Linked DNA regions of Homo sapiens: all the other regions are linked to region 2. Evidence: fine-mapped expression QTL. A gene starts in region 2. Each other region holds a variant in brackets. All regions are shown on one strand. Distances are between the middles of the regions. Region 1 has its middle 48 kb from the start of SHISAL1. Region 2 holds the start of SHISAL1 (shisa like 1). Region 3 overlaps SHISAL1 (shisa like 1).

The links. PIP is the estimated chance that this variant, and not a neighbour inherited with it, causes the effect.
Region 1: its variant is fine-mapped to the expression of SHISAL1 in nasal epithelium (TOPMed, PIP above 0.99).
Region 3: its variant is fine-mapped to the expression of SHISAL1 in transverse colon (GTEx, PIP above 0.99).

The regions. Positions count from the first base shown.
Region 1 is chr22:44,357,064-44,364,561 of GRCh38, forward strand. No RefSeq gene overlaps it. Among named protein-coding and RNA genes, the nearest start is that of SHISAL1, 48 kb to the left of the region's middle. The variant G/A (reference allele first, on the strand shown) is at 3,860.
Region 2 is chr22:44,309,245-44,316,742 of GRCh38, forward strand. It overlaps SHISAL1 (shisa like 1), which reads right to left and starts at 3,707. Exons shown (of 5, transcript NM_001099294.2): 1 at 3,507-3,707. It overlaps LOC101927499 (a long non-coding RNA gene), which reads left to right and starts at 3,767. Exons shown (of 2, transcript XR_244444.3): 1 at 3,767-3,899; 2 at 5,177-5,755.
Region 3 is chr22:44,280,669-44,288,166 of GRCh38, forward strand. SHISAL1 (shisa like 1) reads right to left here. Exons shown (of 5, transcript NM_001099294.2): 4 at 4,760-5,077. Among named protein-coding and RNA genes, the nearest start is that of SHISAL1, 29 kb to the right of the region's middle. RefSeq lists enhancers at 47-547, 1,459-1,958. The variant G/A (reference allele first, on the strand shown) is at 3,799.

The DNA of each region.
Region 1 (7,498 bases), 48 kb after region 2:
TCAGTCTGCGAAACTTCGTTAGGACAGCCCTAATGTCATTGCCAAGCACAAACTGGCCAGTCCCCAGCCCTCACCCTGTGCCCTCCGCTGTTCTGACCTGTCTCATTTGCCAGTGGAACCTTCATTCCTCAAATAAGGAGTCGCTTCTCTGAGTCTCCAGTTGATCACTTGAAAAATTAGGATAATAATACCCACCTCCTACGGCTGTCACGCTCCTTCAATAAAATATGACAGAAAATGCACCTGGTTTGTAGCGATGCTCAGTAATTGCTGGCGGCAGTAATGTGACAGTTATTTTTACTGTTGTTTTTATGAATCGTGTTATTTTAATTAGCTGTCAGTTTCCAGGTCTGAGCTGGCCATCCTGGAGATAAAAGAGCCTCGTGGTTAGGGGCTCTGCTCACCACTATGTGCAGGGGAGGAGGCCACCTTGAGGATAAGGGAAAGATCTGCATGCATTGTGCAGACATTCACTCATTCACCACTTGTTGCTGCCTCTGTGCCCACACAATACCATGTCTGCCCCAAGGACGCAGCTACATTAAAAGCAATTGCAATGCTGCACGATCAGGGCTCTGAACTCGGGGACTTCGGGGGTCCAGAGGGCACCTGGCCCAGCCTGGAATAAGGTGGCATGTGCAGGAAGGCTTCTTGGAGCACGTGGCTTTTGAAATAAACATAAAAGGAAGAGAATCCAAGCTTCTGGGCTCCCAGCTTATTTGCTGTGTGACCTCGGGCCAGCCCCTTGCCTTCTCTGAGCCTCCTGAAATGAAAAACCAGGAGCAAGAGTTCACAGGCCACCAAGGCCTGCCCCCAGGAGAGACTCAGAGTTGTCACATCAGTTGAGCCTCAGGGTCCCCAGACTGTGCTGTCAAAGCCAGCTGAAGTAAAGATACTGGTTCCCCTGCAAGGGAGTCAGGCGGGTCATGCTTACATTCCAGCCAGCTCCCAAAGCTACATGCGTGAGGATAAGAAAAGAAACTCCAACAAACATCTGAAACATTTCACGGCTCCCTGCCCCGCTGTTCCAGTTGGAGAGAAAACAGAACGCTGAGCCAGTCTCGCTGACGACCCACACGCTGCCGCGGCCGAGCCTGGACCATCCAATGGCATCCTGGTTCTTTTCATTCAATTTAGTCTCTGCGGTTGGCCACCTGCCTGTCCTTTTGAGCACTGAACTCGAGGGATAAATGGGGAAGCTGGAGCTGGGCAGATGTCACCGTTTCTGGGAGTTGCCGCTCGCTCACCACCTGGGATTTTGTTTTCCCCGTTGGAAGACAGAATATCCCAGCAACGTGCAATCCTTCTTTGCTGGCAGGTTTAAGGCCTCTTGTAAACAAGAGCCAAAGAAGGAGAGAGAAACACACTTTTGCCGTGTGCCTGTTCTGAGCCAGGCTCTGTGCGGCGCCTGATATCCTTTCAATCCTCTGTACCTATTTTACGAATAAGAAACGAAGAGGCAGGGAGCTGAGAGAGCCCCCTTGGGAGGTGAAATTATCACTTGGAATGTCAAGCTTGCTCTAAACCAGGACATGGACTGAGATTTCAGGGCTGAGCAGTTTCGGGGGGATGGTTAAGCTGGTGGAGGGCTAAGGGGTATGTGTTAAAGAGAAAAATTGCACCTGACCCGTGTTTAAAAATGGCAAAGAAGACTTTACCAAAGATGATTGTAACAGCGAACAGAGTTTGAACTCAACCTTGAAGACAGGAAGGACAGCTGGAAATTTATGGCCAAGGAGCAGAGTGAGGGGCAGTGGATGGAAAATTACTCAGAAGGACTAGATTTGACATCAAGGGTAGAGGACTTCCTGCTACCCAGGCCCGGTGGGATTCTTGCTAAAGGGACAAGGACTTAACGATCAAGAGTGGGAGAGAGGAACTTGATCTGAGATCAAGGGTGGGGGATTCTCTCCCTGAACTGACTTAGCGGGATTCTTTGCCAGCCAAGGTCAAGGCCTGTGCCAGAAGAGGGCTCAGAGACACCTGGCTAAAGTTTGGTCGAGGACGGCGCTCTGTCACGTGGAGGGGGAGACACTTAGGAGCAGGAGGTTGCGCACCACAGTGTGAATGTCCAAGTCTCCCCAGGGACGTGGCAGGGCTTCGAGGTATCCTAGGAGGTGGTGAGGGGCCGGGACAAATGCCCAGAGCCAGGGGGAGGTGGCGGGGGCACGCTGAGGATCCAGCAGGTACTGGACCCAGAGGTCTGGGGACCCCAGTGTGTGTGACAGACCCGAGGTTCTCAGTCGAAGTTTGGGGTCAGCAGGGGAGGAAAGAGATGCTGAATTAGGTTGGCAGGGTGAGGGCGGCAAAGGGCTCAGTGCTGGGTGTTGCTGAGGCAGTGGCTCAGGCCCCCTTGGTGTCCAGAAGGCATCCTCTGGGTGTCCATCAGGGACAGTACCAGTCCTCCGCTGTAACTGTGTGCACCTTAATGGGAGCCATCTCCCCAGTTTCTTGCTAACAGAACACAGATTTGGTTAGGCGGCAATGTGCCTAGGCCCAGAGGGACCCCAGGATGAGCACCCTGGATGAGGGGTAGACCACACGTGTGGGGACATGCGTGTTACCTGGGCCCCCACCTGCGGTCCAGCAGACCTTGGTGAGGTTGGTGCTTGGGACTCCTCAGCTGCAGAGCTGAGTCCCAGTTCAGCCGCTTCCTGGTGGGGTGAACTCAGCCCTTGCTCAACTCAGCTTCCTAATCCTGAAAACAGGTAGTGAGGACACTTACTCCCCAGAGAGAGTCATGAGGATTTCATGGGCCCAAGCTCGGCCCATGGGGTTAGCGATGATGGCATGCTGCGGGGCTAGCTGGAGAGGAGCCATCCTCCCCATGGGGCTGCATGGGCGTGTGTGCAAAGGGCCAGGGGCAGGCTGGCTGAGGCAGCCTTCAAAGCTATCCGCTGGCCGGGTACAGTGGCTCACACCTGTAATCACAGAACTTTTGGGGGACAAGGAGGGCGGATCACAAGGTCAAGAGATCGAGACTATCCTGGCCAACATGGTGAAACCCCATCTCTATTAAAAATACAAAAAGTAGCTGGGCATGGTGGTGTAAGCCCGTAGTCCCAGCTACTTGGGAAGCTGAGGCAGGAGAATCTCTTGAATCCAGGAGGTTGCAGTGAGCCGAGATCGTGCCACTGCACCCCAGCCTGGCGACAGAAGAAGACTCCGTCGCAAAAAAAAAGCTACCCTGCTTTGCAAAAGCTCTCTCACCTTGGCTCCTGCCAATCCCCTCACTGCCTGCAGGACACAGGCTTCCCCCAAGCCTATTCTCATTCCACAGATGAAGAAACCAAGAAAGCGAGGCTCAGAGAGGCAAAGCAGCCCACTTAAGTCTGGCAGCCGGTGAGGAGTACAATGGAGACGCAAGTGTGGGCCTTGCCCTGCCCCACCCGGGGCTGCAGCAGGGTGGGCTGGGAAGGGATTTCTGAGACTGAGAACGGCGTAGGCAAAGGCTCAGAGGCAGGAAGGGGCCTGGAAACCCAGGGCACGCGAATGTTGGGTAGCATGGTGCCGAGCTGGGAAAGGCGCCTCTGGGGAGAGCAGGTCATGCCCAGACTGTGGCCCAGGGTTTCTGTAAATGGAGCTTCGCACAGTAGGCCCACGGCAGCCAGTGTAATTTGGAGAGAAAATTCCAACCGGATGAAAACAAATGTTCTTTGCTACTGCAGCTCCCTGCCCTGCAGGCCATCTCAGGCTGTTACAGCTGGCGGCCGGCTGGAGACTGCGAGCGGCAAGGAATTCGGAGCCAGGGCCAGGGCAGTGCTTCATTCCAGTGGAAACGTGTGCTAGCTGCGGATTTCTGGGTGGTGTGGTATGGGCTGGAGCCGGCTGGCATGGATGGAGGCACGCAAGGACGTGT[G/A]GGGGCTAGATCTGTCCCCCCAGGAATCCCACCAGCTTCCGTCATGACTCAGTTCTGGGACAGCCGAGGGCTTAGGAATTGGCTTGGGCTTTGCAGAGCAGACGTGGAAAGGTCAGCTCCACACTGGCCCAGTGTGGAGGCTGGCAGGGCCCAAACCAGAAAGGAAAAGTGGCCTGGCTCTGGCCTCGGTGATCTTGGTGTTCGGGTGTGTGCCGGCGAGCCTGCCTTCTCATCGGGGGGTGTGTGTGCCCCCAGGGCAAGGACTGTGCCCAAATGTGTCATTGTCGAATTCATCCAACAACTTCCGAACAGCAGTTGTGTGCCAAGCCCAAGCGGGCACTGCGGGTGCCAAGGTAAATAGGTCTCAAGTTCTGTCTCCTCCCAGCTCCTTCCAGCACTGGGCTCCCGACTGGCACCGTCAGGCTCTGGAATGAACCAGGCCTGGGTTCAATTCTGCCTCAGCCCTGACTGTGAGAGCCTGGACAAGTCACTGTCTCCCCTAGACCTGGCTTCCCCTGAGAAGGGCAGGGGTAAGGGTGCTGTCGCAGCAGTTACTGGGGTAGTGATCCTGGAGTCTCGAATAACTCAGGCTCTTTAAATCCTAGAACTCTGATGAATCACCCATGCTATGGGCTCGGTTATGGCCCCCAAAATTCATGTGTTGAAATCCTAACTCCCATACCTCCACATGTGGCTGTACCTGGAGACAGGGCCTTTAAAGAGGTGACTAAGTTAGAATGCAGTCAATGGGGTGGGCCCTAATCCAGTAGGACTGGTTTCCTTATAAGAAGAGGAGACTGGGACACAGACACCCACAGAGGGACAATCAGGTGGCCAAAGACACTGGGAGAAGGTGGCATCTACGCACCAAGGAAGAGAGGCCTCAGGAGGAACCACCCAGCTGGGACCTTGGCCTCCTGAGTGGTGAGAAGATGGCTGTCTGTTGTTGAAGCTGCCCCGTCCATCGGTGCTGCCTTGGTATATGGCAACTCGAGCAAAACACAAGCCGCACTGCAGACCTTCTCAGGCTGGAGTCCCCCTGCAGGGTACCCGCCGTGGGCCCCTGGCTGGCAGTTTTACTGGGGTTCAGTTCTAGAGGAGGCAGGGCTCCCAGCCCCAAGCCTGTCCAAGACGATTCTCTACCCAGAGGATCCCAAATGTTTCTCTCAAAGGAATGCCTTCCACCGTCCCTGACAGAGCACAGCCAGGGGTTAGTTATAGCCAGGGGTTAGTTACAGCCAGGAGTTAGTTACAGCCAGGGGTTAGTTATAGCCAGGGGTTAGTTATAGCCAGGGGTTAGTTACAGCCAGGGGTTAGTTATAGCCAGGGGTTAGTTACAGCCAGGGGTTAGTTATAGCCAGGGGTTAGTTATAGCCAGGGGTTAGTTACAGCCAGGGGTTAGTTATAGCCAGGGGTTAGTTACAGCCAGGGGTTAGTTATAGCCAGGGGTTAGTTACAGCCAGGGGTTAGTTACAGCCAGGGGTTAGTTATAGCCAGGGCCCGGCTTCTGCCTCCAGGGACTGTTCTTAGGGACGCTCTAGTTCCAAAGATACTTTCGGCCGTAGCATCCTGGTTGAAAAACCACATAGAGGAACAAGCAGTTGAGTGAGCCCTGGTGGGTCCATTCAATGGAGTCCAAAGTAGCTTACACCAGTTGGTCTGAAAGTTACACCCAGGGAAATGCAGAAGGTGACCGATGCCTATTGAATGACCCTCCAAGCAGCGCCTGGCTCCAAGAAATGCTTTCTGTAAGTTATCTTGTTTATTTTTCTTCCTAAGGAAGCTAGATATTTTTGTCCCTATTTTACACACAAGACTAAAGAACATCTCAAAGGCAGGGATTTGGTCTCCCTCACTTCCCTTCCCAGCACCCAGGACCCAGCACAAGGCTCCATCCAGTTGACCATAGCAGCAAACATGGGCACCCACTGGCTGTGTGCTGGCCACACCCTGAGCCCTTGACATGGGCTGGCTTATACCATGCTCAATGCCCATGGCAAATACTGTGTCAGACCCATTTCACAGATAAAGAATCTGAAGCCCAGAGGGGCTGTGACTTGTCCAAGGTAAACGCCTAGAACGTGGGGGTGCCAGGAGTCACCCCTGGCACTGCTGGGCTCCTAGCCCAAGTGTGCAGACGCTGGCTATCCTGCCTCTCAGCCCACGGTAGTTGAAGGACTGAATGAGCGAGTGGCCCTGCTACGTCCTGGCTGCGGGGTCTGCAGTAAGTCCCCTAGACCTGCTAAGCCCCAGTGTCCTCATCTGTAAAATGGGCTTCCCCCGCTCCCCACCAGGAGCTGCCTTGTGTTGCTGAGAGAGATGTGGCCTGATTCCAGAGACTCGGCCTCGTTGGGTGGACTGCCGGCTTTGTGGGGGCAGGGAGGGCGGGGAGCATGGGGCCATCTGCAGCCCCTGGTGCCTGACTATGAGTGTCTGATGAAGGACCTCACCCTAGGACTTGGGGCCCTCAAGGCATGGTGACTCACCCCGGCTCCTTCCTTCCTCCATGGCCCTGTGTCACTGGCTTAGGAGCCCCCAGCTCAGCAGCCTGCGTGAGCGAGCCCCAAGTGCTCTCAGACCAGCCCAGGCTCACACCCAGGACATGAGGCCACGACGACCACCTGGCACATCCCTCTGCTCGCCACAGCCCCGGCCCTGATGGCTCCCAGCCCTCTGGAAGGGCCAGCCCGGCTGGATCAGGAACGCCAGTCCGGAGAGTAATGAGGGTTCCCTGTGGAATGAGAGAGACTCCACATGGTTGGCGGCGGCGCCTGGACGGTAGCCAGCACTTTTCCAGGGCATTCCGGGAATCCCGCTCTGGCCCCTTGTCTGACGCACTTTGAGTCAGCACTTGAGCCAGACGGCCGCTCTGGGCTGGCCAAGAGACAGGCCAAGCGTCCCCACAGGAGCGCTAGTTGTGTGAGGGAGCCCAGAGTCCCCTGACTTAAACGGGCCTGGCTCACTGCCCCCATTTCACAGATGAGAACACCAAGGTCCAGAGGCAGGGCAACCTGTCCACCCTGGATACTCCCTGTCAATCATCAGAGTGGCTCCCCTCAGCCCCTGCTCACCCCATCCTCCATCCTGCCGCATTTATAATTGCAGTGGTGGGATCATCCTGACCCCACCTCCCCCTGGGGGGGCTCGCCCTGACCTGAGGAAGGAGGGGCTGGGCCTCAGGCACAGGGAAGAGGCCCTGGGACTGCCACATCCCAGGTCACACACCCCCATCCCCGGGGGACAGAGGCTTCATCTGGTTATTTATGGAACTGCCACTCTGTGCCAGAGCCTGCCCAGGACACGGTTTCTGCCTTTGAAGACATGCATGGAAGGAGTGACCTCCAGGCCAGAGCGATAAATGCCGAAATGAGGGGAGCACAGTGGGAGGACGGAGCACAGGGATGGAGGCGCTGGGGACAGCCTCCTGAGTCAGCCAGAGAAGCCAGCCCAGGGCCCGTGGCTGCTGGGGTTCAAGCAGAAGTCCCTCTAGGCAGCGGCCCCTAAGGTTGTCAGTGGGGCCTTGGCTGGGGTGCGAATGGGGGTAGGACTGAGCCATCCCCCACAAGCCAAGCCAGGAGGTCACCCTGGAGGAAGGGGCCTGACTGTAATTGGTACAAGGGTGCAACATGAGCTGGTAGC
Region 2 (7,498 bases):
ACAGCCTGGGGGGAGGCGGTCACAGACAGTAGATTACGTAATGATGAGTAATTCTATGTGGGCACGATGATTAGCAGTGGTAGCATTAGCACGGATTAGTAATTCAACAGGGCAGGGCTCTCTGGAGCCCCACCAACAGTCCTGCGGGTAGGCAGCGGCCCAGCAGAAGGGCAGGAAGTACAGACGAGGAGACGGGCTAGCAGCTGCAGATCACCCGAGCCCAGGGCAGAGCACGGTGCCCAATGCTCCCCATTCCTCACCCGTTCCCTTCCCACCCAGCCCTATGCTGCACCCTCAGTCTCTCTGTTACACAGATGGAGAATGTGGGGCTCGGAGAGGGGACTCAAACCCCGGGGTCTGCTCCTGTGCCCTGTCTCCACGACTCATAAGAGTGTTTACCCCTGCAGGCAGCACTTGTGTGCATGCCTGTCTCCACACAGCACACACATGTACACACGTGTGCACATATGTATCATCAGGGATGTTTAACCTCCACAAGTTTCCCAGTCTCCAGGGCCTTTCCTCGGCAGTGCAGACCTAATCCTGAGTTTGTGAACTTTTGTTTTCAGGACATCCACTTAGAGGTTATGAAATCTCACTCTGAAACGTGAAGTCCAGGAATAAACACTTCTCGAGGCTCCACGCCTGCATATGAAGTGAGATCAAAGCATGTCTTTGTGACCCCTTCATGCTTGCAGGGGGAAGCGGCAGGAGAGAACTAGGACATCTTTCCTCGCTGTGCTGGCCAGGACCGAGGCAGCCAGAGTGTATGGCTGGAGAAGGACAGAGAAGCAGCCCGTTCGCCTGCAGCTGGGGTGCCGGGCTCCACGGCTGACAGTGAGTGAGAAGGGCCAGCACCTCACACCCTAGTAACGGCCAATGTGACCTGAGCCCTGCTGACCTGATGCCTAGCCCTGCAGCGGTCACATCCCCGAACCCAGCCCTGCTGAGACCATTTCGTTTTTGCTCATCTCTATGGGCAGCACAGGCCTGACACGTAGTAGGCACTTTATAAACATGTGTTAATTGGTTGAATGAACATAAGCAATGATCATCTCCATTGCTGAGATAAATAAACCACAGCTCAGAGAAACTAAGTGATTGCCCAGAGCTGGAGGGTGGAAGGTTTGCAATCTGAACCCAGGTTTGCTCGACTCCAGACAGGGTGCTGGGGGCGACCACATAGGCTTTGCAGCGAGTCTCCTTGGCCTTGGATCAGAGCTTTATCACTAACTAGCTGGGTGATCTAGGGCAAGTTACTTCACGGGCTTCAGCTTCCTCATCTGTGAAACGGGAGCCGTGCCCCACACCTTGCAGGTATACCAAACATAGAAAGGACCAGAAGCTAGCAGGGCACCCAGAACATTAGCAGCTGATCCATAAACCGTTCTTATCCGATGTTGCCTACTCTACTGTTCCCAAAGCTGATGGTTTAGGTACCAGAGAGGGTCCTGTGTGCCCCTTGGCAAATGAAATTGTGTTTGAACTCCATGTCTACGTCTGATTTCCCCAGTTCATCTTTCCGTGCTTTGCTTGTTCCTTTAGTTGGCACGGATTTCCCTCTGCCTTACCTGTTGGTTTACTGCTTCCCTGCCTAGTACAAGCTCTTCAAGGGTGGGAAATTTTGTGCCTCTGCATCGCCCCACCATGCTTTGCACACAGTAGGTGCTGAATAAATGTCTGCCGGCCATAGAGTAGGAACTCCATTAGCACTCGTTGGCCTGGTTTGTTTTATTGCAAAGAGCAAACTTCCAGATGGGAACAGCAGAGATCCAGGCAGGAGATCTCCTTCAACTGAGACATGGCCTCAACTTTTACGGCCACCACCGGGAGTGACCTTGGGCCATCAGCCCTGGGTGGAAGTCCCTTATTTTAGCCTAGAAACCCAACTCCAGGGCTCCAGTGGGACAGGTCCCCCTAAGTCCAGGGGAGCTGAGGTGGGCCGGCTCACACCCCCTGGGCCCTCACTGTCTCCCTACCAGGCGGGCATACCACTTGCTCCATGGGGCTGCTCTCAGGGTCAGGGCCACGAGGAGAAGCACACTGCCACGAAGGGTGCTGGCCTGGGTGCTGGAATTGGGAAGGCACGCAGGTGACCTCCAACGTGGAAACCTCTCCTATCTCCCCAGATCCCTCCCTCAGTGGATAACCATTCCAGTGTATCCCTAATAAGGCTCTTGTCCCTCACTGACACCTTTCCCTGCTGAATCCACCATGCCCCAGCCAGCTGGGCTCTGAGTCCAAGTTACAAACTCAGCTGTTTCAATGGTTCCCCCTTTTGAGCCCCTGGCCTGGGCCAGTTCTGCACCCATCAAAGTTCTCTGCATGTGCTACTGTCTCGAATGTTGGAAGTAGGCACCACTGTGATCCCATTTTACAGATGAGGAAGCTGAGGCCTGGGGAAAGGGGGACTTGAGCGAGAACACACAGCTGAAAGGGGCTTAGCTGGAAACCCCAACCCTGCTGAAGGCCCTAGATGCCCCACTGTCCTCCAGGGGGCCACACTGGGTCACAGGGCGAGGGGCTCAGGCCAGACTCAGTTTCCTCCCCTATTAAAGGGAGAGCTTGGCCGAGACAATCATGGGCCTTCTTCAGCTCAACAACCCTTTGTTTCTCTCTGTCCTCCTGAGTTATTTGGTTGCACCATGGAGATAAAACAACCCCTGGAAATCCCAGAGGCATTTTTTTCCCACTGGAGAAACACAAAAATATCACATGAAGAATGAATCACTTAAAGTGTCAGGGCAGGAAGAGGAAAGACAGGCATGGCGCTCGCCTCGGGGTGGGGGTGGCTCTGGGTTTCTCTTCAGCTCCCTCAGCCTCCCTGGTCCCCAGAACCCCTTCCTCACTGGAGTGAAGAGAAGCCAAAGCCCTAAGCCTCAGTTTCCCAATCTGTAAATGGGGACAACAAACCTGCCTTGAAGGCGTATTCGGAGGGGCCAATGCATTCATTTGTTCGTTCATTCATTCATTCATTCATCTATTCACTTATTTCGTACCGGTGTGATGCTGGACTGGGACTGCAGACTCTGAAGTGGGTCGAACAGACCCACCTCACCCCCGTGAAGCCAACCAAATGCCCTCCAGGCCATGACTAGGGCATCCTGAGAGCACTCCCTAGGCCATGCCGGACCCTCCCCCGAGCCTTTGGCCTTCTCTCCAACCCCTCTCTATGCAAGGCTCTTGACACAAGGACACTGAGGCACAGAGACGGTCAGCAACTTGCTCAAGGTCACACAGCAGGTAGGTAGTAGCACCAGCATCTGTGCACCCCCACAGGGCTCCCACCCCTCTAGATCAGAGCCTGCTCCCCATCTTGCCCCACTGGCATAGCCGTCACCCCGGCCCCTCCCATTCTTCTGTGACTAGGAGTCACTTAGCAGCCTTGCCTGGCTTCTCCCTTAGACCCAGTGCTTAGCCAGGGCAGGGACCCCAGGGTCAGCGTGAAGGAACAGAGGTGCCCCTGCACAGTGAGGACCTGGAAACCTCCACAGGCTGCTCCTTACCTGCCGAGCCCTGTGACTGAGGGATCAGAAGCCCCCTCCGCTGGCTGCGGTCTCCCTGCAGCTGCTGGCCTCTTCCCCGGCTCCTGGTTGCCACCAACCTTAAACCCCAATAAAAGGAGAGCAACTTGGTCGAGCCTTGTATAGGCAAAAGAGTGTTTTCCAGCGCAGGCTGGCCTCTGTGTGCTGACAAGAATTCAGTGTGCTCCTCAGGGCGGGGAGTGGGGCTAGGGCGCTGAGTCAGCCCTGCAGGAGTCCAGCTCCCGCCTGGGCCTAGGGCCGCCACCTCCCAGGCCCAGGATGGCAGCGGCTGCTCCCGCAGTCCCCACGCACTCCAGCCTCTGGTCTTACAGCCTTGTGCATCCTCAGAGCACCAGCAAGAGCCCCATTTTACAGGTGAGCAAACTAGAGACACTCCCTGTGAGATCCCACAGCTAGAAGCAGCAGGGGCTTAGACCCAGGGCACCGGGCTCCAGGTCCGCACCTCAGCAGATGCTTGGCACAATACATGTGGGTTCCCTCCCGTGGCCCTCAGTCTCTGTTGGGCAATGGAGGTCAGTGGCACCACTGCACAAGCCCCTCTGGCCAGCATGGCCCGGGGAGGGGTGTGGGTAAAACAAACGGTCCCCACACCAGCCCGGGGAGGAAGGGTAGCTGGGACCCGAGAGCCCACAGAGGGTGTGTGGCACCTGCCTGACTCCAAGCTGGGCTGATCTTCCTGCTGTTGCCCCCCTACCCCTGGCCTGTCCCCACCCAGCAGCAGAGGGTCCTCCCTGCCAGTAGGAATGGGGTGGGGATGGGGCAGGAACAGGGCGGGGGATGCCCACACCTGCCACTGTTCGAAACACATCAGTGGCTTCCATGACTGTCTGGACACAGCCCAGGGGCCTGGCTGGCCTCTGCAGCCACACTTCCTGGGTGCCAGGCACCCCCCCAGCCCATGGCCGTCTCCCACCCCTGGGCCTTCGTGCATCGTGGTACCTTGGCGGCGCCCTTGGCTGGCTTCTGGGTGGCATTTAAACGCAGCCATAAAGGAGGCCAGCCCTCCTCTGCCTCCCACCCATCCCTGGAAGCCTGCCCATCCTGAGCCAGGCCAGAAATAAACCTCCTTTTTCCATTCCTTTCGGTGGACAGAGAGCGAGTTCAGACTGGTCTGGGTGCCCCTCATCTAACCACGGTCCCAACAATGGCAGCCCAGAGCGATGGGTGCCACGATGGGAAACCAGGGGGCTATGGGCGCCCAGAGTGCCTGATGCAGCCTGACGGGGTAGGGGCCGGGAGTGGGGGTGGTATTTATTTAATCTTCATGATTAGGAGGGGCTGTGATTATCCCCAATTTACAGATGCGGAAACTGAGGTACAGAGTTTCAGTAACTCGTCCTGGGTCGCCTGGCTGGGGACTCAGACCAGGGGGTCTGGTGTGGACACCTGAAGGATGAGTCGGGCGGTGGGGCGGGGGTGGGGGTGGGGGAGTGTTCCTGGCAGAGGGAACAAGGCACACAAAGTTCCTCCTGCCTCTTGTCTGGGGCTCAGCATAGCAGCAGAGAAACAAAAGGGCTCTGAGCTTGGGGTTTGAACACGGGTTCAAGTCCCTTGCCGCTTCTCAGCTGTGTGATCCTGGGCATGTTTCTCTGTCTCTCTGAGCCTGGACTGCCCTGTGGATTTTGTTATAGTTCAAAGCAGACCTCCTGTGCACCAGATCTGGAACACCTATGACATAGAAAAGTATGGGTCCGCCAATGACATTTACTCCTTGCGATCCACCCTACGAGGCAGGAATTTTAAAAGTTCACCTTTGACAGAGGTTGGAAGCACAACAAAGACCAACCTGCCTGGCAGACCGGGGTGAGGGCTGCCTGGAGGGAAGGTGACCCCACCTCAGGGAGGCCACTGTGACCACATCCTCTTGCACAGTGGGTCTTTGCCTCAGCAACTGTGGGGGAGGAAAAGCACCAACATCCCCTCTCGGCCGAGGGGACCAGGCTCTAGAAAGCTCACAGCGGCGCTATGGAAAAACCTGGAGACAGCCCTGGAGACGGCCCAGTGGATGAATAGGAAAATGCATGGTGTTATGGCCAAACACCGGAACACTCTTCAGCTACCCAAATGCACTGCAGCCGCACAGAACATTACGGGGCATCTCAGCGCTATGAGGCTAGAGAGAAAGTAAAGTCTCCAAAGATGAAGTTCAGCACAGTACGCTTTCTAGAAGGCTAAAAAGAACTGTAAATAAAATGTTCTTTTTGAGAGTGCATCTGGCTATAGCAAGGCATACAGCGGGACGTGGGGTGAAGTGGGCCCTGCTTGGGAGCGCACAGGCTGACGTTCCTGCTCTCAGGCTGAGGGATGGGTCAAGGATGTTTCTTATATTATTAACAAACAAACAAGTAAATAAAGAAGTCTTGGCAAGGACTGCCGAGGGCGAATACCAGGAAGCAGGCAGAGACATGGGCCTGACTCCATGGCCTGGAGTCTGGAAAATAGAATAGAAAATCAAGGTTCAAAATATATGTAAAGAAAAATAATGATTACAGTACCCCCCAGCCCCCATCCATTGCACACAGGCCCACCCCTCTGGGCAGCTGAGACCCACACAGGGGCCTGGGTGGGGACTGCAGAAGCTGCTTTGGCCTGGCTGGGGGTCCCTGAGAAAGGAGCGTTTTTTTCCGGTTCACAGTCCCAGGCTGCTGGGTGTGGTGCCGGAACTGTCCAATTCCAGTAGGGAATCGGTGTGAATTCCCAGCCTCCTCCTACTGAGCCCACATACACCTCGTCCCTTTGAGACCCTCCCAGTTATAAACTCTCTGTGCCTCAGTTTCCCCATCTATAAACTGAGGACACCAGGCCATATAACATCCTCCTATATTTCCATGTTTGGAACTGAGCTGGTGGCCCCATGTCACCTGGGCCACAGAATCCCAATGCTGCTTCTTACGCTGTTGTTACCTGCCTGGCGGGTCACCTGCCTCGAGGAGGCTTGGTTTCTTCCTTTGTGGATGGTGCCATGCCTCCATCCTGGCCCCTCCAGGTCAAGGGGAGGATGACTGAGATGAAGAACACGCAGGGCCCTGCCTGAGCCACTGCTGGGGAGTTGCTGCCTCCTTCATAGGCTCACAGGCAGCAGTTCCCCGGCCTCAGGTGATTCCGCAATGGCAGGATGGGTCTCCATCCTGGCCCTCAAAGGATTCACAGTCCGGGGCAGGGAGGGGAGAGGCATTGCACAGTGTAAACCGCCCATATCGATGTGGAGCAGGGCAATGATAACCCCCCAGGGGCCAAGTGCTCTCTGCAGTGCCCGTGACAGACCTGGTCTCCCACACATCATGCTCCTGCAACAGGACATGTCATTCTGTGACTTGCCCAAGGTTACAAATAGCAGGCCCCCACGTGGAATCCAGATTTGGAGCAGACCAAGCCAGGGAACCCAGTTGGGACGTGGTGCACCCTGGGGAGAGGGACCTGGGTCAAGGATGCAGGATGTGGTGGGAATCGGCCAGATCTTACTAGCTTGGGACCTCGGACAAGTGAGTGACCACTCTGAGCCTCAGTTTCCCCAGCTATCTAATGGGAATGGTACCCAGGGTAGGCCAGGATGAACAGAGAGATCCCCGGAAGTGGCTGCACCAGGGCTGCACAGACCTGTTGGATCAGAACCAGGGTGGGGGGTGGGGGGGCAAAGGATTTGCATCTCTCCCAGCTTTCCAGGGTGTTCTGATGCCCACTCAAGGAAGAGCTGCTGGGCCAGCTTTGCAAGCCACCCAGTCTTTGTCCACTCTGCAGTTATAGACAAAAAAGAGCTGTAGAGAATCCTACATGAATGAGTGATGGTGTGTTCCAATAAAACTTTATTCACACAAACAGGCAGCCCCAGTTTGCAAACTTCTGGGTGAGATCATTGCTACCCCAAGCACAGCCCACAAACCAGCAACCCTGGCATCTCCCGGGAGCTGTTGGAAATGCAGGCTCTCGCGCCACCCTTCCGGCTGAATCAGAGG
Region 3 (7,498 bases), 29 kb before region 2:
TGTGGATGCATGGGGGAGGGAGGGAGGTGGGGACAATGGGGAGTGGAGCTGGGTGTCCCAGGAGGATGTCAGCCCCCATCAGGTCCTCACAACTGCACTGAGAGGCCAGCCCTGCCCAGTTTACAGATAGGGACACTGAGGCTCAGGCAGGGGAGGCTCGGGGCAGGCAGGTTGTGCGGCACTGGCGGGGCCAGGTGGGTGTGTCTGACTGGGAGCCACTGCCTGTGCCCCGGATTTGAGACAGCAACAATAATGACCATCACAACCATGAGAGCGGCACCTCCCAGGACCCAGGCCACAGCCTCAGTGATGATGACAGCACAGCATGTGGCAGGAACGTGGCAACATCCTCGGGCCTGGCTTAACCCTGGGGGCACAGCAGCTTCCCTCGGTGCCCCCTCCACTGCTTGCTCCTTTAGCCTGAGGTGGGCCCTGGCTGTACAGAGGTGAGACCTGGGCTGTCAGGGTGAGGGGACCAGGGCCCGCCACCTGAGGGGAGAGAAGGCTCAGCCCAGACCCTGTCCCAGACCCCTAGTGCTGATGCTCCTGCTGCATCCCTTACACGGGATTTGCTGAGCAGCTACTATGTGCTGGGGCCCTGAGTCGGGCTGAGGTTCTGGTCGGGGGAGCTGCACACCACTGCACAACTGACAAGGGTAGGGAGTCCAGCAGGAGGACGGAGGTCCAGATAGTGAGGTCAGGTCGGGGATTGGTGGGAGGGCCTGGCTGGGCTGAATACTGGTGGAAGTGTGTGTGTGTGAGTGTGTATGTGTGTGTGTTTGTGTCTGTGTGTGTAGGGGGTAGTGCTGCCTCCTGCCGCGCTGTGAACTGAGTGTGCAACTGTGCAAGGAGGGCCAAGGTGCTTAGAGAGGCTCTCTACGCCTGGGAGGAAAACCCAGGACCTCCACAGTGCGAAGGAGACACCGTTAGGTGACGAAGGCACTTTGTCGCAGGTGCGGTGTCCCTGGGGTGCCTGCTGGGTCACACTGGGCTCTGGGCCCTCAGGGGTTGTCCTGACTACTTTCAGGAGGAAATGACGGGTGGAGTCTTGGGGTCACCAGAGAAGACACAGTCCAGAGAATCTGAGCAAGAAACTTCACAGTCTGAGTTCAGTAGCTACTAAGCGGAGGGAAAGCCCCGCTTCTCCGTGAAATTAAACGAAGGCAGCTGAGCATTGTGACCATTGCACCACTCCTGACGCCCCTGCTGGCTCCTAACTCAGTTATAAATCCCACGGGCGGGGGACGGCACAACGCCCCACCTGCCTGGCCACGCGATTCGGCAGCACTTGGATTTTGCCCAGCCAGCTGGCAGGAAAATCACATTTCTTATGATTGATGGAGTGCGTGTCTGTGGGGACCAAGAGGCGGGGGCTGTGTGGGGCTGAGCCACTGCCGCCAGGGCCTTCAATACTGCTGTTCAGCGGTGGCCTGGGGGCTGCCTCGGGGCCCTCACCCACCAAACCCAAGGGGTTTCTGAGAGGGGAGGCTGTGCCGGCCTCCGCTGGGGAGCCGAAGGCCTTGAGGCTGGGCCCAGCAGTCGCCCAGCTTACTCCTCTGCCCCAGCTCTGGGATCTGCTCCCCGCCCACCGTGGGCCCTCCCGCTGCAGCAGCCAGGGTGGGAGCCAGGGGCAGGGAACTCCTGGGCACTGAGGCAGTCCTGGCCCCCAGCACAGCTGCCCCTTGCCTCCACCTCCCCTGGCATCACCTGACTGCCCTGTCCTGGCAGTGCCTTGGCCTCCTGTCTCTGTCCCCCCTGCGGTGGTCCTTGACCCACTGCTTGGGTCCCACTAAGCCTCCCCAGAAGTGGCTGGCCTCATTAGGAGACTCCAGGAGCTCAGGGGATGTGGGTGTGTCTGCAGCTGTCTTCCTCCTGCTGCCCCTGCACAGGGAGCCCTGAGGAGCTGGAGAAGCTGGATTCATTCGCAGGAGAAAGAGCTGGGGTGGGCAGGGGAGAAAGGCAGAGAAGCCACAGAGGCTGGGCTCATAGGAGACTTCTGGAGGTGAAAGCAGAAGTGAAGAGAGATTTTGAAGAGCAGCGGCACTCAGCAGGAGGCTCCTGAGAGGGCTGTGAGGGGAACAGAAGCCTTTCCAGGGGCTGATGAGTGTTCAAGAACCTCCCTGGTCCACACTCCTTGCCTGGACATTCTCCAGTGTGCCCGAGGAGGGCCGCAGAGGGCGTTTGTAATGGCTGTTTGGGTGCCAAGTGGTGTTTCATTGACTGGGACACCACATGGAGGCTGGGCCACCCGGGGACCAGGGACCTAGTCGGGTTACAGTCAGAGCTATAATGCTGGAGATGTCCTGGGTCACACAGCTGGGAGGACCTTGGAGTGGCAGGAAAGGAGGCTCCTCCCTGATCTCCAAATGAAATCCCCTCTCACGTTGGTTCCTCAACTGGCAAAACTGAAGCCCAAAAAGGAAGCTCCTCACCCAGAGTCACGCTGCGTGTCAAAGAGCACAGCGGGAGTGGGACGGTGCCCGTGAATCCAGCCAGGGACTGGCTATTCCCTTATCCTGCACCACACCTTTGTGGGTTCTGACAACCTTTTTTCACGCTCACAGGGTGATGGGAACACCTTCCTGAGCCTGCACTCAGGACGGTCAGGAAAGACGAAGAGCCTCTGAGCTCCAAAAGGAAAAGTGTCCCACCTGGACCTGGAGCTCAGCTGCCCACTCAGGCTCCGTGCACAATCCCTGCAGGCTTGGCAAGCTCTCTGCATCCTGATGGCATAGCACAGTGCCTGGCACACAGCAGGTGCACAATGTGTGCTTGTTGGGGAAAAGCAATATGGAACAGGGGTAGGGTGGGAACTGCTGCTGAGACAGGCAAAAACGTTCTGGGCAGGATGAGATCGGGGAGCTGTTAGCAGCAAGCACAGTGACGTAGGAAATGGAAGACCTTGAGGCCGGGGCAGGAAAACAGCACCCAGGTGCTGAGTGCAGGGTGCTCACGACATCCTCCATCCCCTTGGCAAGTGTTCGGCGAGGTGTGAGCTATTTATTCCAAATGTATGTGCATGCAAAAGGTGCGGGAGTGGGGGAGGACCACCGTTTTAAACGGAAGATTCTCAGCTATCAAAAAGCTTGGCTCTTATAGACGTTTTCCAGTGCCTCCTGAGCTGTAGTGCCTATGAGCATCACCCTCAGAGATGCCTGGTCAGTAGGCTCTGGGTCTTTAGTTTGACAAACCCTCTAGGTGTGTCTGTTGCAAAGGATCCACATTTCAGAACACCCCACTCTTGGGTCCTGCCAACAGACATTTTATTGTCTGTAGCTCTCTGGAGTCCCCACTGCTCAAGGGTGGAGGCTGGCTTCTTCTCTACCCATCACCTCCACATCCCCCAGAGCCTGGCACAAACCCCTGCCCAAGGACCCACTCTGCCAGCATTTGTCAAACCGAGCCACACAGGGCTGTGTCTTTGTCTCCTGTGTGATGGATGGTGTCATTATTCAATCGATAAGCACAAGCTGATTTATGCATCTTATTAATTATTTAATAATAATTGAAAAGGTCACTACCTGCTAGCTATGTGAACGATCACTAACTCACGTCATTGCTGCCTCCAAAGAGGAGGCAGCAAGGATTAACTGAGGACCTACTATGTGCCAGGTAGGTGCACAGTTAATCCTTGGGAGGGGGCAGTCTTACCCACTCCTCCTTCACGAGGATCGGAAGGTTAAGAGGGGTGAAATCTCATGCCCGAAGTCAAGGAGCAGGTAAATGGCAGAGCCGGGACTCAGACCCAGGTTAGGTTACCTGCAAAGCTCCTGCACATGAACCCAGGGGTCACTGTGC[G/A]GCAAACTCCTGCACCCCTCCAGCAAGGGGGCTCTGGGATGGGTCTTGCAGCCTGGGCTTGGTATCATGATGTCCCTGGATGACGTGCCCTGAGCCCTGTGTGCCCATGGCTGCAGCTCAGCCCCCACAGAGCATCCGAACCTCTCACTCTAGCCCTTGACCTGGGAATCGACCCTCAGTCTGGCTCCTGTCCTTGGTGCTAGCCAGCCTCCCAGGGAGTTCCTGCTCCAAACGCACAGACCCTGCCTCTCCCCTTCCAACTCTAGATGCTGCACTACCCAGGGCCGCCTGGGATTAGGTCAGGCCCATCCCCACCATACTGGAACTGGGCGGAAATGGGAATTGCAGTAGACAAGCTCAGATCTGAACATAACCCTGGGGCAGCCACCCCACAAGGCCAACCCTTGAGATGCCACCTCTCTGCCTTCCTGCCTTCCTTCCTTCCTTCCTTCCTTCCTTCCTTCCTTCCTTCCTTCACAGCCTGCCTGAGTCAGAACTAGTACCCCTCATGCCATACAAGGCATGTACACATAAGGAACTAAGTAACATTTGTATTTTCTAACCTCATGCTGAAAAATCTGGCTGGACAGACTGATTTGCTTCCTTTGGCCAGATTTACAACTCAAAAAGCCATCCGGTTTTCCCCTTTGCCTTGGCAGCTAGGTAACCCAAAACTCCACTAAATGTTTAGTGGTTACCTCTCTCACACTGGGCTCTAAGCGCAATGAGCTTGCAAGCTTTGCTTCTAAGCTCTGTTTCCACCTCTCATTTTGACTTTCCTGTCTAGGCATGTGTTGTAGGCTACCCATAACAGTTTGAAATTTTTCTTGGCAAACAACAAGATAAGCAAACAATCAGGCAACCAATGAGCCAAACACTATGGCGAGAGTGATGGCGTATTCTCCAAGCTCTCCAAAGACAATGACCCAAATCATTCTGGGTCTCAATTGTAGCCACTCACCAGGCAGACGAACTCTGGAAGGTCATCAGCGGTGGGCTGTGAGCATCTCCCCGCAATGTGTGCACGGCCTGTGGGGCTTGTGGCAGCGGGCCTGGGGGAGGCTGCGGCTGTGGGGCCCGCTGACCCGGCCGAGGGGCCCGAGCGGGGTTCCCCCACCGCCGGGGGTCCTGTTTCATCCATCGTCCTTGGATGCCCCACCGTGCCAGGTAGACCTTGCAGATGTCGTAGTTCATTGCCGAGTAATACAAAAGGTCCAGAACCAGCAGCATCAACACGAAAAATCCATAGATCCACACTCCCAACAAGGCGGTGTAATTGCTGCGAACAAACAGAGAGGGAGTGAGCAAGCAGAGGGGAGCAGTCCAGCTCAGGCCGGCTTCATCAGTGGGGCTGATTAGAGAATGTGTCCTGGGGCTATGTTGGGGTCCCCGGGAGGAGGGTACTGAGCCCCTCTGGAGGGCGGGGCCTTGGCTCCCTCTCCTCTGCCTGCCTGTTCGCCTCCTTCCCTGGAATCCACTGCCCGGGCCTGGTCCCCACCTGGGCATCCTCCAGGACCCTGAGTCCTTGGGCTGGGATCCCTGAGGGTCCCACAGAGTCAGACACTTTGGGGGGAATTCTGAGCTGGCATCTGGGGCTCCCAGGACATGGCAGCCTCTTCCTTTACCTGGTGCTGTTTTGGTCTGCCCTCTCCCTCCTTCCTGCAGGTGCCCCTGCCCCACCTTTGCCTACATTGTTCCTGGCACCCGGGATGCTCTCACTGCCTCACCCCTGCTGTGAGGACGGAGGTCCTCCCCATCCTGCTGGACCAAGAGCAGAGGCATCAGGTTCTGCCCTCTAGACCCTCTCTCAGCCTCCCCCAGGGGTCCCCTTCACTCAACACGACCAGGCTGTGCATGGCTGGGGCTGTCCGGGCCCCATGACCTCACTTCTGTTATTCATTTGCCCAACATTTCCCCACCGAGGGCTGCTCTGCCTTCCTCAGGCAGAGGTGGCCAAAGTTGCGGGAGGGTTTGGAAGCCCGCTGTGAAGCCTGGCTCTCCCGGTGTCAGCCGACTCCACTGCAGACAGGGTCTGCGCTCCAGCACCCGGCCTTTGCACAGGCCGTGCCTTCTTTCCCTGCCCCCTTCCTCCCCTGCCTACCTCCCACCGGCCCTTTGTCGAAGATCACTTCCTCCAGGAAGTCTTCCGGACACCCTGACCCTCCTACGCAGCTGGGTCAAGCCTGTCTTCTGGCCCACAGCCCTGAGTTTCCCTCAAACCCAGCCCCTGTCACCCAGAGCCACATCTGTCTCCCACACCCTTCCCCAGGGCCAGGGTCCAAGTCTCCCCGACCTGTGCCCAGAGTGGATGGTGTCCAGGGCTTGCCACAGCAGCTGGAGCTGCCGAGCCCTAACAGTGCGTGCCAGGGGCTGTGGCTGCCTGAAGCCACCGATCTGTTAATCACTCCGGCGCCGCCTCCGTCTGCTCCCTGCTGCAGGCATGTGTTTGGGTGGGTGTGCGCTTCTGGTGTCGAGGAGGCGTGAATGGAGCCAGTGTCCGGCCTGTACACGCCACCGCTGCACATCCCCAGGGAGAGACTCACCTCGCTCTCGCCCAGACGGAGGTCTCGCGGGCAGCAGATCCTTTAAGACCCTGTTTGAGGCTGGGGGGAAGGGGCCAGCCCGGAACCCGGAGACCTGGTTCTAATTCTTCCTCTGCCTGGTTTGCTGTGTGGCCTGGGAAAACCCTTGCCTGTCTCTGGGCCTGGAGGAGATGAGCATGAGGCCTCTCCCAGTCTCGACTTCCAGGCTCCAGATCTTCCCAGGCTTAGGTCAGCCCTGGCGCCAGCAGTGGCCTCTGTAGGAAGATGGGGGCTGCTTCCCTTGGGCTCCTCTGGCCCTGACCAGGGCTGAGCCCAGGGCCGGGGAAGCTCGCTTTCGCTCTCTGCCTAGAATGCCTTCCCTCCTCTCACTTGGCCAAGTTCTTGGCCTGAAGATGCTGCTCGGGTGCCTGGGAGCTCCTGGCTGGGAGGTCTCTGCATGTCCTGAGCACATCCCATGAGCAGCTGTAGGCCAGTGCTTAGGCTTTGTAGCTGTAATCCCACAGCTCCCGGTCACTGTGCGTCCTTGCTGCCTCCTTGCCCCCACCTCCCAGCCCCCACCACCATGAAGCCTGCATCAGACTGATGGGCTCGCTCATGCTAAGGTGTAAATGACTGACAGCCAGGCCCCAGCGGCCTTATGTTAAAAAGAGACTGTTAAAGAGAGGCTAGCTTTTCCTGGAGGCATCTGGATATGGAATTCCTTCCAGGAATTCCAGGAAAAAGAGGCCTGCAGCCCCATCCAGTATGCTGGGGCAGGTGTCCCCGGGGTAGATGTCCATGTAGACCGAGGAGTCAGGCCTGGCTCCAGTTCCCAGGCCCTCCTGCTTTCCCCAGCACCCTCCCTGCTGCAGCCCCCACGGAATTGCTCTAAGTGCCAGGTTTTTCTTCGGTGGTTCCCATGGCAGCAGCCACGGGGGCTGAGGGAGGAGACGGGGAAAGGGGAGGCAGGGCAGCTGTGTGCAGATGCTGTCCGCAGAAGGGGTCCAGGATGCCAGCTGGGGGTGTGGCTGGGCCACAGGCTGGGCCTCGAACCACTGGGCCAAGAAATAATAGTACCAGAAGTGGCAGTGGACGCTCGTTCCCCTACCTGCTTCCCACGTTAGCCCATTTAATGCTCACGCAACCACGGGAGGAAACAGCTTTTTCATCATTGTCAT